3 linked regions of the Homo sapiens genome follow. The protein of the gene in region 3 purifies or fractionates together with the protein of the main gene of each other region. This does not show direct contact. Each region holds a gene or a part of one and is shown on either strand. Other genes may lie near its edges.

Evidence for each region.
Region 1: the proteins of TMX1 (region 3) and PODXL2 purify together in Homo sapiens (affinity purification with mass spectrometry; 2 studies listed by BioGRID and IntAct, with this or other methods). This does not show direct contact.
Region 2: the proteins of TMX1 (region 3) and UFSP2 purify together in Homo sapiens (affinity purification with mass spectrometry; 2 studies listed by BioGRID and IntAct, with this or other methods). This does not show direct contact.

The regions. Positions count from the first base shown.
Region 1 is NC_000003.12:127,631,639-127,639,184, forward strand, and holds part of PODXL2 (podocalyxin-like protein 2 precursor), read left to right. Parts: intron 1-7,546. UniProt on the Homo sapiens protein: Acts as a ligand for vascular selectins. Mediates rapid rolling of leukocytes over vascular surfaces through high affinity divalent cation-dependent interactions with E-, P- and L-selectins.
Region 2 is NC_000004.12:185,399,037-185,402,510, forward strand, and holds the end of UFSP2 (ufm1-specific protease 2), read right to left. Parts: intron 1,688-3,474; exon of another isoform or gene 1,443-1,687; coding exon 1,356-1,442; 3' UTR 982-1,355; coding exon of another isoform or gene 981-981; 3' UTR 742-980; coding exon of another isoform or gene 534-741; 3' UTR 501-533; downstream 1-500. Other genes in the region: ANKRD37 (ankyrin repeat domain-containing protein 37), read left to right, coding at 534-741. UniProt on the Homo sapiens protein: Thiol-dependent isopeptidase that specifically cleaves UFM1, a ubiquitin-like modifier protein, from conjugated proteins, such as CD274/PD-L1, CYB5R3, DDRGK1, MRE11, RPL26/uL24, TRIP4 and RPL26/uL24.
Region 3 is NC_000014.9:51,235,075-51,244,238, reverse strand, and holds the start of TMX1 (thioredoxin-related transmembrane protein 1 precursor), read right to left. Parts: upstream 3,993-9,164; 5' UTR 3,947-3,992; coding exon 3,795-3,946; intron 384-3,794; coding exon 268-383; intron 150-267; exon of another isoform or gene 15-149; intron 1-14. UniProt on the Homo sapiens protein: Thiredoxin domain-containing protein that participates in various redox reactions through the reversible oxidation of its active center dithiol to a disulfide and catalyze dithiol-disulfide exchange reactions.

The DNA of each region.
Region 1 (7,546 bases), on a different chromosome or scaffold from region 3:
CTCAATTAAGGCAGATTAATTATTAAGTGCAAAACTAATTATACACAGAATGGCTATGTCTCAGCTACTATTTTGGTGTCATCTTATGGTGGGCAAGTTTGAAAATAAGTAACCTCTTGTAATTACTTAAATAAATACCCATTGCCAAGGCCTTTGAAAATATCAAGTTCTATGTAAAGACAAAACAGTCATTAGAGGGAAAAATAACTTTAAGAAAATGAAACTGTTTACTGGAAAAGGAATGAAAAACCGGGAAAATACCAGATTCCTTTTTCTTCAGTAGGGTTTTCAAAATCTTTGCCAATTCCTATTAGACCATTGGGAAGGGAAGACAAAGAAGGAAAGGGAGAGATGTTAGAGGAAGGTTATGGGTTCCTGGCTTGACAGGTGGGAGAGCTCAGAGAGGTGGGGGCTCACTGGAGCCATGGAAATGACAGGGAAGGGGCCTAGCAAACACACCAGACCACAGTACTGTGCACAGACAGCTGGACTGACTAGAAAGTGTTTTATCCCCCAGAGTGGGGAAGGAAACAGGCTCCTCTGGGCACAATGACCTGGAGAGGGCAGAGCAGTCTTCTTGAGTTCCAAGCCATTCCGAGGAGCCAGAGTAGGGTGTAGACGGCAGCAGCCTCCCCGCCTGCCATGCCACAGCCTCTCCCTGCCATGCCACAGTTCAGCTCCGAGAGAGAGTGCCAAGGTTTGAGAGACAACCCGTGTTTAATCCTTCAGTGGTTTTGTAGAGAGTGAATTTCAAAATTCTTAGGGAGAATCAGTTTACACTTTTCTAACAAGGCTGAAGTAATATCTTTCCCAGCATACCTGCTGGAGGTTGGAGCATGCAGATACAGATCTCCAGTTCATGGCCCTCTCAAAGGCAGGCTGCCCGGGTGCCCCGGGAACCTATACAATGTGTATTATTTAATTATTATAAACATTTTCCATCAGTTGACTTTTTTCTTCCTGGAATGCATGAATGAGTTTTTCCAGATTTGTTTCTTGTATTTTGGCTCCCTGCCAGCCCTGGGGATACTGCTTTTGCAAAGCAGTCTGCTACATCGGCTCATATCCCCTAAAGAACTTAGGGTTCCACTTCCCAAGAGTTTGTAATTTTCCTGAGGGCAAAGCCTGTCTCTTGTTCATCTGTCTCTTGTTGCACCTCCAGGAAGGGCCTAACACACTGTTTGGCACAGAATAGGAGCTCAGGAGTGACTGTATTTTTCTTTGTAATCGAGAGTCTAATAGAAATTTTACCTCTAATAAGAGCACAGCCCACCTGAAACCAAAGTTCAATTATAATTGGATCACATCTGATTGGCAGTACTACATGATTCTGATTCACTTTTCAAAAATTAGAAAATAACTATTAAATAAGTACAGTTTATAGATGAAACATTTCCAAACACAGGGGCCACATGCAAATGTAAATAAAGGGATTCTTGCTTGTGAAACATTGGGAATCACTTTACTAATTTGGTCTTTTTCAAGAGAAGAGATTCCTTCAATTGATTGGATTGGTTGTGGGGACCCTGGGCAGAGTGTTTGGAAAGGGGTATCTTCTAGTTTTTAGCTCTGGCTTCTTTCCCTGGCCCTTAAAGCACATGAAATATTTAAGCTGTTTTACATATTCTCTTCCTTCACGTATCCTTTGGAGGAAGGAAGGTACCCAGCCCCACAAGTAATAGCTTTCCATTCTTCTTCCTGGAGCATCCACAAGATGTTTTTGTGGGGGAGAAACCAGCTAATTTCAGCTCCTCTATTAACTAGCTGTTTGACCTTAATCCCACTAGGCCTCAGTTATTTCATTTGTAAAACAAGAGGGTTGGATTACAAATTTTGTGTGTGTGTGTGTGTGTGTGTGTGTGTGGGAGAAACCAGCTAATTTCAGCTCCTCTATTAACTAGCTGTTTGACCTTAATCCCACCAGGCCTCAGTTATTTCATTTGTAAAACAAGAGGGTTGGATTAGACTACTAATTATTTATTCAAACCTTTATTGTGTCCCCATCATGTGTAAAAGGTTGTGCTAGGCACTGGAATTACAGGGTGGAATTGAAACAAGGGACTCCTCATTTACAATGGAGGCTGTATGAAGGTCTCTTACAATTTGGTGAGAAAAGTGGCGTGACAGTAGTTTGTTGAGAAGGCTGTGATAGAGAGGAGTGGTGTCTCATCCAGACTTGGAGTGGCCACAGAAAGCTTCTCGGAAGCTGAGACTGCAGGCAGGAGTGAGAATTAGCAGGTGGGTGGTGGGACAGGACAGAGATGGGGAGATACGGATGTTCAAGCAGAAGAGCATATGCAAAGACCCAGAAGGCAAAAGAGGCGGCTGTGTTCTGGAAATTGCAGGTAGTCAGTTTGTCTGAAGCGTAGAGTATGATTGGGGAAGGTGGGTGCAGAGAGGGGAGGGGAGGTAATGGTCAGTTTATGAGAGCCTTCTCGCCTTTTCAAAGGATCTGACCTGTATGATAGAATGATAGAACCAGATTTGCATTTTAAAAAGACCTCTCGGCCTGTGCAGTGGCTCACGCCTGTAATCCCAGCACTCTCGGAGGCCAAGGTGGGCAGATCACCTGACGTCAGGAGTTTGAGACCAGCCTGGCCAACATGGCGACACCCCGTCTCTACTAAAAATACAAAATTAGCCGGTCATGGTGGCACATGCCTGTAATCCCTGCTACTCGGGAGGCTGAGGCAGGAGAATCGCTTGAACTCGGGAGGCGAAGGTTGCAGTGAGCTGAGATCACGCCATTGCACTCCAGCCTGGGCAACAAGAGAGAAACTCCATCTCAAAAAAAAAAAAGTTGACTGGGCACAGTGACTCACACCTGTAATCCCGGCACTTTGGGAGGTTGAGGCAGGCAGATCACCTGAGGTCAGGAATTGGAGACTAGCCTGGCCAACATGGTTAAACTCTATCTCTACTAAAAATAAAAAAAAAATTAGCTGGGCGTGGTGGCAGGTGCCTGTAATCCCAGCTACTCGGGAGGCTGAGGCAGGAGAATCGCTTGAACCTGAGAGGCGGAGGTTGCAGTGAGCCAAGAACGCGCCATTGCACTCCAGCCTGGGCGACAAGAGTGAAACTGTCTGAAAAAATAAATAAAAATAAAAAATAAATAAAAAGACCTCTCTGAGCTTTGTCACTCAAAGTGTGGTCCACAGACCAGCAGCATCAGTCACACCTACTGTGTCAGAAGACTCGGGTGACTCACACACATTTCAGTCTGAGAAGCGCTGATTAGAGGGCAGTGTTCGGGACAGATGAGTGCAGGGGGAATTGCTAGGGGTTCGTAAAAGAGCTCTCTTTTTCTTCCAGCGGTGAAGCACTATGAGGACTGTAATTCTAATGGAGGCGTCTCTCATGTCTACACATCTATGTTTCTGTATCGTCTCTGCTGTTTTGCTTTATCGTGAAGTGTGGGGCATTTCGGCCATGTGCCCCCCTGAGTGGCATGGTTGTCTACCCTAGAGAAAGGGAAACTGAACACATGTTCCTGAGATCCCGGTGTTGTTATTTCCTCCAGCCTCCTTTCTCCTTCACAGTGTACTGAGCACAGTTAGTACAGTGCCATGAGCAGTTCTGTTAGTAGCTACCTTTGAGATCTCTCTCCCTGCCCTACTAACCCTGTGGCTCAAACAGAGTTATATGGTCACTGTTACACTATTCCATAATGATTTGTTTTCTTGCTGGTCTCTGTAGTAGAAACTGACCCTTTTGGGGCAGGGACCCTATCTTTCTTATTTCTGTACCAACATAGCCTTGGATCATGCCTAGTCCAAATAAGCATTTAATAAAGGCTTTTTGGTTGAAGAATGAATGAATGGATGGATGAATGAATGGAATTTAACCATTCAAACACTACTCTGATCCAAAAGGAGAACTTGATTTATAATTTGTCTTAATGTATCATTTGGCTATTTCTGTGTAATAAATCACCCCAAAATTTAGTGGTTTCAGATTCTCAGTTCTTAAGATCTGATCCCTGGACAGAAGCATCACCTGGGAACTTGCTAGAAATGCAAATTGTTGGGCCCCGTCACAGACCAGCTGGATTCAGAACTCTAGGGTGGGCTTAACAGTCTCTGTTTTAACAAGCCCTCATGGTGATTCCATGCTGGTTCAAGTTTGAAAGCACTGGATTAAAACGGTAGCCATTTATTTAGCTCATGATTCTGTAGTTTGGCAATTTAGGCTGCAGTCAGCTGGGTGGTTCTGGTCTCAGCTGAACTCCTTCAAGTTTGTCATCAGCTGTTTATCACCTTTGCTGGTCTTGTCTGGCTCTCTCACTTTGGGACTTCAGCTAGGACACTGAGCTGATCTGGCTCTCTTCTGCATGGGCTCCTGTTTTCCTGCAGGCTAGCCTTGAGCAGAATCCTGAGAGAATGGAAGCGTGCAAGGTATCTTGATGCCTAGCCTTGGAAATGGCACATCATCACTTCTGCATTGTCTTGTGTAGCAACTCACAAAGGTAGCTCAGATTCAAGGAGTGGAGAATTAGATTTCATCTCTTGATGGGAGGAGCTACAAAGTCTCATTGCAAAGATGTGTGTTATTAATTGGGAGTCATTGGATAACCCCTCTCAGGAAGAACCTTAAGAAGGTACTGTTTTGGGGTAGGACAGGGCACTCTGTTTCTTTCCCATCTACCTAGTAGGGGATAGATACTGCTTTCTTCTATAATATTCGGGCTAGGAAAAAATCCAAGAGTAGCTTAGGGTCCCCCCGTGATGTGAAGGGGAATTAGAGTGGAAGAGGTCATGGGAAAGTCTTGAGCTAGAGAGAGTACAAGTCCTTAATTCATCCTCTCCCAGGAACAAAGGGGAACTTCAAGGGGAGTGGACCCCAAATTGATTGTCTTGGCTTTCTCTGCCTTTTAAATACCTTTGGCTCAAAGAAACCACAAAATATGAGATGGCTGTTTCTCTCTTTGAGTCAGGGATTCAGACACAGGCTCTGGGAACATGACTTCAGCTTCGTGGAGCCAGGCCCTGCCTGGAAGCAGAATCTTTGTCCGTGGACATGGTGCCTAGGACAGCAGAAGACATTCCGGATGGGGTGTGATAGCTTCCTGGTTTGGACTTGGCAGAAGGCAATCCCCTGTGAGCAGTCCTCAGGAGCACTGGCAACACAGCAGTGCCATTGGCTCCCACCTGCCCAGGGTCACAGCTTGCCCACCCTTTAGGTATTTTTTTATTTTTATTTTTTTGAGACAGAGTCTCACTCTGTCGCCCAGGCTGGAGTGCAATGGCACCATCTTGGTTCACTGCAATCTCTGCCTCCCGGGTTCAAGCAATTCTCCTGCCTTAGCCTACCAAGTAGCTGGAGACTACATGCGTGTGCCACCATGCCCAGCTAGTTTTTGTGTTTTAGGAGAGACTAGTTTTGCCACATTGGCCAGGCCTGTCTCGACCTCTTGACCTCAAGTGATCCGCCCGCCTCGGCCTCCCAAAGTGCTGGGATTTACAGGTGTGAGCCACCACACCCAGCCCCATCCTCTAGTTATGATGATACTTTCTAAAGCTGAGAGTTGGGCCTGTGAATTATCTTATTGAGAGACAGAGCTTCACGGGATCTTAGAGGTTGGCACAGACGTTTACTAGCCCTGGTCAGATGCTAAGGCTCTGATGCCTCCTTAGCCCCGGCGTTGGCTTTGAGGCCATGTAGAATCACTCTGATATTCTTATTCACATCAACCTTTTGTTTTAATGTATTTGAAGATACCATGGTCTCTTTTAAATATTTTTTTCCCCGGGCCATGAACTTCACAGGTCTCTGTTTTTTATATAGGATAATAACACAATATTTGTAGAATAGTTTGGTTTGTAAAGCTCTTTGTAGAGCAGCTTTCACACATGGCTCACCAATTACCTCATTTGGTGCCCCTCACACTGGAGGCATGGTAGGAATTGGTGTCCTTATTACACAGAGGAGGAGAGCAAGGCTGGTGGTGGTGAAGTCACTCAGCCAGAGAAGCCAGAGTGTAACCTATTTCCTGGTACCAGGCTTTCTCTCCTGTTATATAGAACATCTTCCTGTCTCTGACCTCAGGGCGTCTCTCTTACCCTGGAGTCTCTACTTCCCATCCCCCATCCACACAACCCAGAATACACCCCTGTGGCTGGATGTGGCATTATTGGCTGTGAGTTGTCTGGCTGCTGCACAGTGTGCACAGACTCCCTCATACGGAGACTCACAGGACAGTCTGAAATGCTCATTTTTTTCAGTGGCCAGTCACAGTATTGGCACGTATCAAGCTTAGGGCCTGCTCAGCAAAGCACATGGCACCAATAATATTAGCCCTATTTTTATTATAAGCATCACTAAAAATTGCCATGTACTGTAGTCAAGTCAGGTCACAGTACACATCTGGTGTAGAGCAAGAGGAAGACTGTGAAATTCCCTCTTCCCTAGATCCTTAAGTGTTAGTCTTGGAAAAGAATTCAGAGGTCATTTCATTTAGCTTCCTTGTCTATCTGGTGAGGAGACTGAGACCCAGAGGTCTTGAGCAGCTTTCCAGGAGCCTCACAGCAAGTTAGTAATTTGTGTGGTTAGGTCATTAAGTTAGAGGTTAAGTTGTGAAACTGGCAAATAGGGCTATATTCCTGTCCTTAAAGAATGAGAGTGAAAGAAGAGGAAAAAGGCCTCCTTTAATTTGTTTTCCTGTCCATTTATTTGCTTGTTTTGGTAAATTAGGAGAGAGAGAGAATCCAAGATTCTAAACAAATATGTCAAATTACCAGCACTGGGTTGAGTTTGAACTGTGACCTCACGTGGTTTTTTAAAAGACTACGTTCAGAGGCTGGGCTCAGTGGCGCACGCCTGTAATGCCAGCACTTTGGGAGGCCTAGGAGGGCAGATCACTTGAGGTCACGAGTTCAAAACCAGCCTGACCAACATGGCGAAACCCTGTCTGTACTAAAAATACAAAAATTAGCCAGGCGTGGTGGTGGGCACCTGTAATGCCAGCTACTTGGGGGGCTGAGGCAGGAGAATCACTTGAACCTGGGAGGCGGAGATTGCAGTGAGCCAAGATTGCACCACTGTACTCCAGCCTGGGCGACAGAGCAAGACTCCATCTCAAAAAAAATAAAAAATAAAAAAACTAAAGACTATGTTCAGGATACTGTATTGCTGAAATACAAATGATATTCATAATGCAGTTTTGGAGAAATTTCAGCCAAGGATGGAAGCCTGGGGAACACTGTGTTCGTCCAATCATACTGCTAGGTCCTTAAAAGCATGGGCCCTGTCTTCACTTCAGTTTGTAGCTCCAACACCCAGTACAATTGCCAACAGAGAGAGGGTACTCAGGAGGCATTTTCTGAGTGACCACATGCGCAGTGGAACACTGACTCAGTGATTCCTCTCTCTCCCCTGCCTGTCTCCATCTGTCTCCCCTTGCCCCTGCCATAGGGAAGTCTAAGCAATTTGGCCTTTTTGAAATGAAAATAGTGTCTCAGAATCCCCGCAAAGCCTCTGGGTTTTCAGGAGTGTCCACTGAAGTCCCCCCTTCCCCAGGACCTTTGTCATTTGAGACATGCTCTAACCT
Region 2 (3,474 bases), on a different chromosome or scaffold from region 3:
GAAAACAGTGGCTTCACATTTTATGTTTTCTTGGATTAAACTAATCAGACTCCTGAAGCTTAGTTACATGTGCTTTTAAAAATAATGCTTGCGTAATTGATAATTTAGTGTTAATCATTTAAATGTTAACTTAGGTTGTTGGTGCTATCGAATAATACTCAGTTCGAGTAAGTAAAAAGTCAGATCCTGAGCAATCAGAGGTGCAATTTTGTTCATTATGACTGTATTCTACTTCAGTTTCGGTTCAGGAAAACCCATTCTATAGTTCCCATTGACTACCTTTGGGTACTCATACACTGTATTAAACATCAGATAATTCTAACATTCATTCAGAACTGGAATGCCCGCTCTATGCTGGATTCTGTTAGTTGCTGAGGATACAATAGTGACCAAAAATGCAATTTCCTTATGCATCCTTTACCTCTTCTGTTCTGCAACCAACATTTGTATGAGCCCAAAATTCCCTTGTAAGATATAAAAAAAAAGACTTAAGTTCAATGTTTCATTTCACTCCGTTTTTATCCTGTTTTCAGTTTATGTAATAAGAACGGGCAAACAGCTGAAGATCTCGCTTGGTCATGTGGATTTCCAGACTGTGCCAAGTTTCTTACAACAATTAAATGTATGCAGACAATAAAAGCAAGTGAACACCCTGACAGGAATGATTGTGTTGCCGTGCTCAGACAGAAACGGAGTCTCGGAAGTGTAGAAAATACCAGTGGGAAAAGGAAGTGCTGGTAAGTAACTCAGAGCTGCTGCTTTTTTCCTCCCGCAGTGATCTCTTGTTTGCATAGCATTTATTATTCCATTTAATACTGACACTCGTATTTCTAGTAGTATTGTTTCATTCTCATTAACATTTTAGTACTGGTTATACTTACCAGAGTCTAGAGACCAAAAATGGGACTGCATGGTGGAAGTTTGGGGATAAAACTCTTTTTAAAAAAAAGTTTTTAATGTTAACGTGTTTTTAAAAACAGATGTCACGTGGGTTATGAAGAAGTCTGAAGAACGCCTTCATTTCATGCAAATCTATAAGCTCCTGCTTTTGGCTTTACCATATGTTGTGTCTAATCTCCTTCTGAGAAGGACGAAAAACTTTCTTCCAAGTGAAGATCCATTTAAGAACACATGTATTTACATGCCTATAATATGCTGGTTGTGTATGCTTTGTCTTTTAAGTTATTAAAGGAACGTCTAAAAAATACATTCTCCGTGCAGTATTTACAACCTTTGAAAAAGGTCATAATTTAAATCGTCAAACTAGAACCAGGATTTAATGTGAAAAATTAAACTGATTCTTTATTCACAAATTTATAATACCACTCTACTGCAGTCTTTGACTCCAAGATATTTTAAATCATATTTGGTCGCTGAGGAAGACATAAGTTATAGTATGCATCCTTGTTCCAAAAATCTGGGCCCTTCCATCCGCACCAGCCCTGGATAGAGAAGACGGGAAAGGAAAGCCTTTTACAAAGTTACAAGATTATGTCATGGAAATCGTGACATCAGGCTCTGTCAGCAGGACCTTGGAATAAGACTCTAAATGGCTTTATCATTCAAGGATTTGAATTCCTACTAGCATAGAAAAGTAACGTATCTTACCCTTTAAGGTAGGTTTTTGAACTTTTAATTCTATGTATGTAATTCATCATAAAAATCATTAAAAAAAATTTACCTGTAACTGTTATTCCAGATACCACACTTTACTGATTCTGAGATGTATAGTTTTACCACTTGCAACTGATAGCATGTGACAATTGAACTAGCAATCTGTTTTTCTTAATAGTCCATAAAGGACTGTAAGAGACCATTCAGTGGCATCTTAGGATTGAAGTACTGTAGTGAGAAACCTCAGCTTGCCCCCTGCCTGGCACTCTGTGCCCTTTCATTTTCAAATTCCAGGTGTTACTCAATTCTACTTCCCATGTTTCATGTCAGTATTAATCCTTTTTGCCAGCAGAGAAAATTACTTTCAAGCAAAATCTCATTTAGAGTATGAAAATTTCTCAGATTTCTCCTAGGGCCACTGAGTTATTTTATTAAAGAAGAAAACTTAAAAGCCAATAACTGGTCTGTATTATATGATTCTTAAATGCTTTGAGAAATCCTTGCAAGGAGGCTGAGACTCTGAAAATACCATGAAGTGAGTGACAAGCAGCGGTCTGACTCCCTCCTAATAAGATACACGTTGTCAAAAAACAAGATAAAAGTAAAAAATCCTCTACCAGTCCTAGGTAATCCCCCACTCTCCCTAGGTAACCAGCATTCTATTAATCATCTCATTTTTTCAGCAAAACTTTCTCTATTAATTTAATGTCCTAAAATCTGTTCTCTTAACAGACAGAGAAAAAAGGCTCATTCTGTTTTAACCTTTTTTTGATCCTTTTACACATGAAGGCCTTGTCCAGGTAACCAGATCCAGATTTTTTAAAGGAGAAATTGGTAGAGAGGGTGTCAGAATGGGATTGCATAGGGACATAGTGCATAGGACATGCTTCTTTCCTGTGAGATGACCAGCATGGGAACTTCAAACAGGAAAGCACCACAAGAAGGCAAAGAGGTCAGGCAGAGATGGAACTCTCCTCTGGCCTCCTGGGTTCCTGGAGTCAAGTGAATCAATAGTTTTAATGGCAGGACCTTGGCTGCACAGTTTCTTGTGTATACAAATAGAGCAAGGAGGTTTCTGCTGTTGAAAAGTTCTATAGAAATAGAACTAGCAAAGATGGAGATTGCAATTCTCAGAGAAAGAAATCAGGGACAATCCCTTACTCTAATTGTTCAGAAACCTTACCTAGATAATGCCATGTAGTGCAGAGCCCCTTGAGTCAACCAGAAAAGAGAAATTTGATGATGAAAATAATTAAGGCTTCTCCCTGCCTTTAAGAAAAAATCGAAATGCCTGGTTCACAAAGACCACCCTTTCTGACTGAGCTTGGTGTGTCCTTCCAGCCTCACCTCTTCGCCTAGCTCTGGACGCACTGATCTACCTGCAGTGCGGCTTTCACTGTTTCTACAAGGCAGGGGCCACCACAGCACCAGCCTCGTAGAAGCACCTGAGATACCATTTTTTTTTTCTCGAGAGTCCTTTTTGCACTCTCCTTCTCTGTCCTACCCTAAAGGTTTTAGCTCCCGAAAAACCTCGTGTAATACTAGTGCTTAGGACAGTGCCTGGCACTTGTTAGGTACTTTAATAAATACTGAATGGAATGAACACCTTGCTACAGAACAAGAATATTGCTACTATATTCAGTAAGATACATGCACCAGTCAAAAAACCTTTTATAGACTTCAAATTCCAAATGCTGTGAAAGAGAAAAGGAAAAAAAAACACTTAAAACTGTAACAACACATTTCTATCCTATTAGTGTTTATACCCTTATCATAAACAAAAGACTTCAGTAAACTGAGGATATAACAGAGTTGGACTACACACATTAAAAACTTTTTTTTGAGCTGGAATTTCACTCC
Region 3 (9,164 bases):
GAATAAAAAGAGGGTAATGTCTTCAAGAACCCTTAAAGCAACACATTCAAGAAATGAGGTGTATACACAACCAGGGAATCTCCATTTTGCAACCATTGCACACTGAGCCCCCAGCAGGGAGGTGGACAAGTCAGGTTAACTAGCTGCAGACTGTTAGGTTTTCAAAACCTAAAGAAAGGTAGAATTAAGACTATGCAATGTAGAAAAAAGGATAAATATATCAACCCAAACAGCAAAGAAACAAAACTAACCAAAGACTTACAGTACCTGGCTGCTCTGTGACATCTACTTTCGCAATATTAACCTCAAGATCTTCTCCCCATTCAGCAAAACTTTCCCATTCCGGTTGAAGATTTTGACAAGCAGGGCACCACGGGGCATAACTAAGAAATACAGATTTTTTTTTAAAAAAAGTTAAGCACTTTAGTATGACCATTTATCTTGGGATAAAAAATTTAAATGTATAATTTATGAAGAATATTTCATATGAAAACACTGAAGATGATAAGGTGGTTAATTTTATGCAGATGAAAAACTTTTAAGGGTAGATCTAACAATCCGGAAATCAAGAATGATGAACTGATGATGCTAATCAAATAAAATTCTGAGAATAAGACACAGGATTTTTTCACATGCAAAACAGCTCTTTAGAAAACTTTTGCATTTCTCTATTAACGGTGTGGCCACCAGAAAGCTCAAGACCAAAGTTAGAGCTTACCAATTTTAATAATTTATAATGCAGAGTCACAAATGCAAGGTGTTGGAAAAACAGAAGTGTCCTGGGCTGTGGTGAATAAGAAAGCACATATTCCATCTTAAAGTGGCAACCATTATTAAGTAGGATTGCCACTAAGGATGCTGGCACACTAAGGCTGGCTATTCATATTTAAAAGAAGATGGAGAGCTGCATTTTTATATGAGAATGTTACCTCAAAAAATAACCCACACACAAATACTAAGCAGGCCAAACAAAACTCTTGGCCAGTTAGGTCATCCTGTTTCCAAGACCTTGGATTTACAAATGCAAGCATATTAGCATTTAAATTACTCCTCTGGTATTATCTCCTGAGGATCTTATTTTTCCACTTTATTGTATTTTATCTTATAATACACCACAGGGTTGTTCTTTTTTTTTTTTTTTTTTTAACAGAACCAGGAAGAATAAAGCCTAAAGCAGTTAAACACAAAACTATACTTTCTGTACTTCACATTTTCTTCACTTGTTTTATGAAAACCAAACTCCTAAAATAGACATTGTAGAACAAGACAAACTGGTAGTATAAAAGCCAAGCTCCTAACAATAAATCGTATTACAATGAAAATATCTCCATGACAAAACTTCTGAGCAGAAATGGATTTACTGTAGATAATTCACTTGTAATTAGGAGCAGACTATTACTAAAACTACTAGAGTCCTTCTTTTTCAGGTTCGTTTTGTTGCTCAGTTGCTTTTTTATTTTTTGAAACAGGGTCTCGCTTTGTTACCCAGGCTGGAGGGCAGTGGCGCCATCTGGGCTCACTGCAACCTCAACCTCCCGGGCTCAAGACATCCTCCCACCTCAGCCCAAGTAGCTGGGACTACAGATGCCTGCCCACACGCCCAGCTAATTTTTCGTATTTTTTTGTAGAGACTGGTTTTTGCCATGTTGCCCAGGCTGTCAGTTGCTTTCTAAAAACTTACTTTAGAATCTCTACTTAAGGAAAAAGAAAAACTACTACTCTATAGCATAATTTCAGATAGATGCTCCAATGTGGATTTACCTCATACTCAATGTTTTGTTAGTCTTGTTCTCCTTAATACTACTTCTGATTGCTGTATTTATATAGTTGGACCATAATGAGTTAAAAAATATCCTTGAGTAATACTTGACTGTATTTTGCATATACACACACGATCACTATTGCTTAATATATTGCTTATAACACTATTTTACAGGCACGATCTAAAACAAGTTACTCATGATGATGACTGAAAAAGTGTCACAGTTCCTCTCCCCTGAAGCTTTCAATGGTGCCTGAATGAAAATTCATTTCAGAATTGCAGACTACATGCATACTATGAAAATTTCCCTTTATCTTACCCTCCATATAAATGTTCTACTTTTTTTTTGAGATTGAGTCTCACTCTGTCGCCCAGGCTGGAGTGCAGTGGTGCGACCTCGGCTCACTGCAACCTCTGACTCCCAGATTCAAGCGATTCTTCTGCCTCAGCCTCCCGAGTAGCTGGGACTACAGGCGCGTGCCACCACGCCCAGGTAATTTTTTGTATTTTTAGTACAAACGGCGTTTCACCGTGTTAGCCAGGATGGTCTCGATCTCCTCACCTCGTGATCCACCGGCCTCGGCCTCCCAAAGTGCTGGGATTACAGGCGTGAGCCACCGCGCCGGCCAGTTTTGTTTTTTTAAAAAATAACACAGGACTTACTGATTTAGCCTTCTGGGTTCTCCCTTGGGGATGTCACTTTCACTGGCCTCCTTAACTTGACAACCCTTGCTGTATTCGTGACACAAGAAAACACTCACCTGAACCCTGTTGTCTTTTCATTTTTATTTATTTACTTATTTATTTTGCTAGTTGCCCAGGATCTCTTGAACCCCTGGGCTCAAGTCATCCTCATACCTCAATCTCCTGGGTAGCGTACGCCACTTCCAGCTGAACCTTTTTAAAGAAGAAGGTGTTCTAACAACAATTATTGTATGCCTACTCTGAAGACCCAAAGAAAGCCAGCACAGCAATATCTGCATAGGTTAACTAAAGTATTTAGGTATCTTGTTACTCATTTGTAAAACGTGAAAAACACCTGTCATAGAGAATTTGTAGGGAATTAAATATGGTATTCGTGTAAAGGTGCTTAGTGGTGTCCAGTACACTGTTAATAATTATGCTTTTACTATTATCAGTAAATACTGCTAATATGTATAATACCACCATCAACAACGACTTAGCATCTAAAGCAAAGACAGATACTTTATTTCCCACCGCGGCAGAACAGATATTATTAAATTGAAATCACCACACAAAATACATGATTTCGTTCGAGCAATAAATGATGACCTGGCGCTCTTGAGAGTGTATACATTAATACATTATCTTTTAATGTAATACCATTTACAAAGACCTAGGAGTCACAACCCAAGGTATTCTCTACACTACAAAGACACCCAAAGGAAAAATGAGATGAGGAGTGAAAAAAAGAGAAAGCAAAAGAGGAGGCAAAAAGAGAAAACGAAAACTTAAAAATAACCCAACTTGAATTGACTCAGTATTTACAATAAAAAAGAAACGTACCCAATCCATTAAAAAAAGCTTAAAAGCGCCAAATTCCAACACCATAAAGAGACTATCTTTTAAGGACAGACAAAACGAGAGGAGAAATTTTGCTCAATATTCTCTTATGTAAAATGTGGTGAAAATAAGTGTAGAAGTCTGTGAAGAATCACTTTAACTACTTAGACACGAGTCGGACACCTCCCTCCCCGCGCCCCAGTCGCATCCTCAAAGTCATGAAAAATGTCAGAATTCGCATTGGCACTAACCCTTTGGGCGCACCACAACCCAAGAAACGAAACGAGGGTGCACCCCAGAAGAAACTTAACATTCACGGGTAAGAGACGAGGGGGTGGGACCAAGCTGGCGGCAGATCCCAAGAGTTTGGGGAGCTGCAGAAGTCGGGGACGCTCGCTCCGCAACTCGGAGGCGCAGTCCTGGGGAGCCTGCGACCCGCACGAGGAACGTGCGGGGTGAAGTCGTGTGTCCAGGCACGGACGTAGGACCCTGGCCGCCCCGCACTCACAATTCTATCATCCAGTCTCCTTCCAGCAGTTCTCTCCAGTTCTCGTCCGTGATGACGCGAACGTTGCTCCGCCGCCCGTGCGTCCAGGGAGCACCCCAAAGCAACAGCACCAGGACTGCCAGGGGAACTGCAAGACTCCCGGAGGGCGCCATTTCGCCGCTTGCCCACCTCACAGGGAGCGCGGTCGCAGCTCCCACTTCCGCCCTCGCGGGCTGCTCAGCGCAAGCGCACTACGGTGCTGCGAGGAGCGCCTGTCTAGAGGACTCTCAATGCGCATGACAGGGGTCTGATCCCAGTGAGTGGTGAAGTCGGGAAAGAGGGAAGAACGACTCTCCGCAATGCGCATGACAGAAAAGCGGCTGCTTCTACCGCCTAGGGTGTCCCAATATTGTGGGGGAAGGAACAGAGCAAAAGGAGGCGTGGTGTAAAAAGTGGGGCGGTGCTTTGAGGAAGAACGGTTTAAAAGACCCTCCCAGGATTTTGGCGCCAAATGGTTAGCGTTTACAAGCAAATTGGTAAGTTTATAATGTGCTAAAGCAGTTTTCCAATTAAATGTCCTTCAGAGTTCTCATTTGTTTTCTTTGAAACATGTAGTAAAGCTAATGGATTTTATAGGAGTCGGAATATTGGTTTACTTCTGAGAGATTATAGACAGGGAAGGTGCAGAGGAACATTATGGTTATGTTGGATGTGTTGGAGGTGTTCAACATCTAGATATGAACAGTAGTTACATGGGCGTACGTATATGATTTTTTTTAAAGAAGGATCAAGCTGTACATTTTAAGACAGTGCACTTTATGCACTTTCAGGTGTATGTTATCTCTCAAAAAAAATTCAGTAGGTACAGAGATCCTAGGTCAGTACTTCAAAATGGAACCAGACACATAGGCTTGTAAGATATTTGAGTTTTTTCTCTCAAACATTCGTAAATACAAATGCAAACCAAAATGTGCACTGCCCCATCAGTCAAATGAAAATAGTTGCAGGTGCGGTGGCTCACGCCTGTAATCCTAGCAAAACAGGGAGGCCAAGGCAGGCGGATCACTTGAGGTCAGGAGTTTGTGACCAGCCTGACCAACATAGTGAAACCCCGTCTCTACTAAAAATACAAAAATTAGCCAGGCGTGGTGGCAGGCGCCTGTAGTCCCAGCTACTCAGGAGGCTGAGGCAGGAGAATCGCTTGAACCCGGGAGGCGGAGGTTGCAGTGAACCGAGATCATTCCACTGCACTCCAATCTGGGCTATAGAGAGAGACTAAGTCTCAAGGAAATAGTTGCCACTATCTTACCTCACCTTTTCAACTTAATTAACCCCAATTAGTCCCCTTCCCCACCCCTCCACTGAATAGCCCTCTCAAGGACACCAGCGACCAGCAAGATAAATCCCAATTGTTTCTTCTCAATGCATCTAGCATGACTCCTAGCCCCATTCTACCACACCCTTGAAACACTTTACTATCTTGCTGTCTGGGCAGCTCGCTTTTTTTTCTGTCCTACAGTAGCTGATTCTTCTCAAACTTCTTGGCTGGTCCTCCTTTACTTCCGGACATCGGCATCTCCAGGATGCTTTACTGCCCCCCGCCCCCCATCTCCCGCCACCTTTCTCTTCATATCATCAGGCTCTCATCTTTCTGGGAACTACAGGCATATGTATTCAACTGTATATCATTCAGACTCTGATCTTTCTGGGAACTACAGGCATATGTATTCAACTGTATATCATTCAGACTCTGATCCTTCTGGGAACTACAGGCATATGTATTCAACTCCTTGCTAAACATCTCTTGGGTATGTAATAGCTGGTGAAAGGAAAAGAAATCTTGGGGCCCCAAAATCATTAAGCTAAAGGGAAAAGTCAAGCTGGGAACTGCTTAGGGCAAACCTGCCTCTCATCCTTCTTCTCACTGAGATAAATGCATATCTGATTGCCTCCTTTGGAAGGCTAATCAGAAACTTAGAAGAATGCCACCATTTGTCTCTTACCCACCTATGACCTGGAAGCCCCTTCCTGGCTTCGAGTTTGTCCCGCCTTTGCTTTGAGTTGTCCCACCTTTCCAGGCCAATACAATGTTCATCTTACATATGTTGATTGATGTCTCATGTCTCCCTAAAATATATAATATAAAATCAAGCTGTGCTCCACCCACCTTAGGCACATGTCCTCAGCACCTCCTCAGGCTATGTCATGGGCGCGCATTCTTAATTTTGGCAAAATAAACTTCCTAAATTGACTGAGACCTGTCTCAGATTTTGGGGGTTCAGAAGCTCAAACATCAAACGGCCAAAAAAGATAATTCTTGATTCTTCCTCTCCTGGTCTTCCATCCACTAAAGAGCCCCGAGGTTCACCAGGTTTCTCTAGCCAAACATGTACATGTTAATTCTTTATTGTTCTCTCTCTTCACCTTCTCCTCTTGTAACCTATGAGCAAATCTTGTAAACGTTACCTTCAAAACGTATCCTGAATCTGACCACCAATTTCCATCTCAACAGCCAACACCCTAGTCCAGAGTTTTCTTGCCTTGAGTACAATGAGAACTTCCTAAATTTGTGAGAAAATAAATTTCTATTGTTTAAGCCACCCAGTCTATGATATTTTATTATGGCAGCCCAAGCTAAGACACTAGACCTCCATTACAATGTTGAATAGAAATGGCAAGAGTGGCCAAACATACTTATCTTGTTCCTGTTCTTAGGAGAAAAGCGTTGTCTTTTACCACTAAGTATGATGTTAATGTGAATTCTAAATAGTTGCCTTTTATACAGGTGAGGAAGTTTCCTTCTATTCCTAGAAGGTCGTCTGTTTTTATCTTGAAGAAGTGTTGAATTTTGACAAATCCTTTTTCTGCATTTATTGAAATGACCATGTGGTTTTTGTCCTTTACTCTATTGATATGGTGTTTTTTTTGTTTTTTTTTTTTTTTTTTTTTTGAGACGGAGTCTTGCTCTGTCATTAGGCTAGAGTGCAGTGGTGTGATCTCAGCGCACTGCAACCTCCGCCTCCTGGATTCAAGCAATTCTCTTGCCTCAACTCCCGAGTAGCTGGGATTACAGGCACGTGCCACCACGCCCAGGTAATTTTTATATTTTTAGTAGAGACGGGGTTTCACCATGTTGGCCAGGATGGTCTCTTTCTCTTGACCTCATGATCTGCCTGCCTCAGCCTCCCAAAGATACAGTGTATTACATTGATTGATTTTGGGACATGAAATCAACCTTGCATTCTTGGTATAAATCCCACTTAGCCATGGTGTATAATTCTTTTTATATATTGCCACATTCAGTTTGCTAGTATTTTGTTGCATATTTTTATGTCTATATTCCTTAGAGATATTGGTCTGTAGTTTTCTTGTAATGTCTTTGGTTTTGCTATCAGGATATAACTGGCCTCGTAAAATAAGCTGGGAAGTGTTCCCTCCTTTTCTATTTTTTGGAAGTGTTTGTGAAGAATTTGTATTAACTCTTCTTTAACTGTCTGATAGAGTCTAGCAGTGAAGTCACCTAGGCCTGGGCTTTCCTTTGTAGGTAGCTTTTAAATTACTAATTCAATCTCTTGTTATAAGTCTACTATGATTTTCTATTTCTTCTTGAGTTGGTTGTGGTAGTTTGCATCTTTCTAGGAATACGTCCATTTCATGTAAGTTGTCTAATTTGTTGGCCTAACGTTGTTCATAGTATTATAATCCTTTTTATATCTGTAACATTGATATTAATGTCCTCTCTTTATTGCTGGTTTTAGTAATTTGAGTCTTCTTTCTTTTATTTATTGGTCAGTGTTATGGTTTGGATATGGTTTGAGTTTGTCTCCATCAAAACTCATGTTGAAATTTGATTCCCCATGTGATGGTATTGGGAGGTGGGGCCTATTGGGAGGGATTTGAATAAAGGGGGTGGATCTTGTGAATGGCTTGGTGCTGTTCTTTTTTAAAAAAAATATATAGGGTATCTCTCTGTCACTCAGGCTGGGGAGAGATGGTGCAATCATGACTCACTACAACCTCAAACTCCTGGTCTCAAGTGCTCCTCCAGTTCAGCCTCCCAAGTAAAGGTGATAGCCTCAATGCTGGCCCTGGTGTTGTTCTCATAGTGAGTGAGTTCTCACTCTGATGAGACTGGATTAGTTCTCTTGGGAATGAATTAGTTCCCTTGAGAATGGGTTGTTATAAAGCCAGGATACCCCTTAGGTTTTCTCTCTTTGCACTTGTCCGCTTCCCTTTTGACCTTCTGTGCCATGTTATGACCCAGCACAGAAGACCTCACCAGAAGCCAGGGCCATGCCCTTGAGCTTCCCAGCCATTTGCACCACGAGCTAATAATCATGACCTATTTTGTTTATAAATTACCCAGCCTTCTGTTATAGCAACACAAAACAAAGTCAGTATAGCTAAAGGTTTCTCAATTTTGTTGACCTTTCCAAAGCACCAACTTTTAGTTTTGTTGGTTTTCTCTACCATTTTTCTATTCTCTTCTTGATTATTTCCTTCTTCTTTATGCTTTGGGTTTATGCCCCCTTTTACCCTGATTGTTTTAAGATGAAAGTTATGATTATTGATTTGAGATCTTTATTTTTTTAACGTATGTGTTTAAGCTCTAAATTTCCCAACCCTGCTTTAGCTGTATCCCATAACTTTTGTTTTGTTGTGTCATCATTTCATTCATCTCAAAGCATATACTAATTTTCTCTTTTGATACCCTTTTTTGTCAATTGGCTATTTAGGAGTGTGTTTTTCATTTTCACGTTTGTGAATTCCCAAATTTATTTTTGTTATTAATTTCTAATTTCATTCTATTGTGGTCAGAGAACATACCTTGTATGATTTCAATCTTTTTAAAATTTATTGAGATTTGTTTTATGGCCTGGTATATGGCCTATCCCAGAGAATATTCCATCACTTGAGAAGAATTTGCATTCTTCCATCACTGGGTGTTCTATAGTTAGATGTCTGTTAGGTCTGATTGGTGTATAGTGTTGTTCAAGTCTTCTAGTTTCTTGTTGATATTCTGCCTACTTGTTCTGTCCATTGTTGAAAGTGGAGTATTGAAGTTCTCCAAATATTGTTGAATTGTCTATTTTGCTCTTCGTTCTGAAAGTTTGTGTTTCATGTATTTTGGGGCTCTGACATATATCTTTATAATTGTTATATATTCCTGAGGATTGACCCTTCTCATCATAAAATTTCCTTCTTTACACCTAGAATTTTTTATTGGTTTTATATTCATTTTGCCTGATATTAGCATAACCACTTCAGCTTTCTTATTGCTGCTATTTGTATGATATATCTTTTCCATCCTTTTACTTTCAACCATTTGTATTTTTTAATCTGAAAAGTGTGTCTCCTGTAGACAGCATATAACTAGACCTTGAGGGTTTT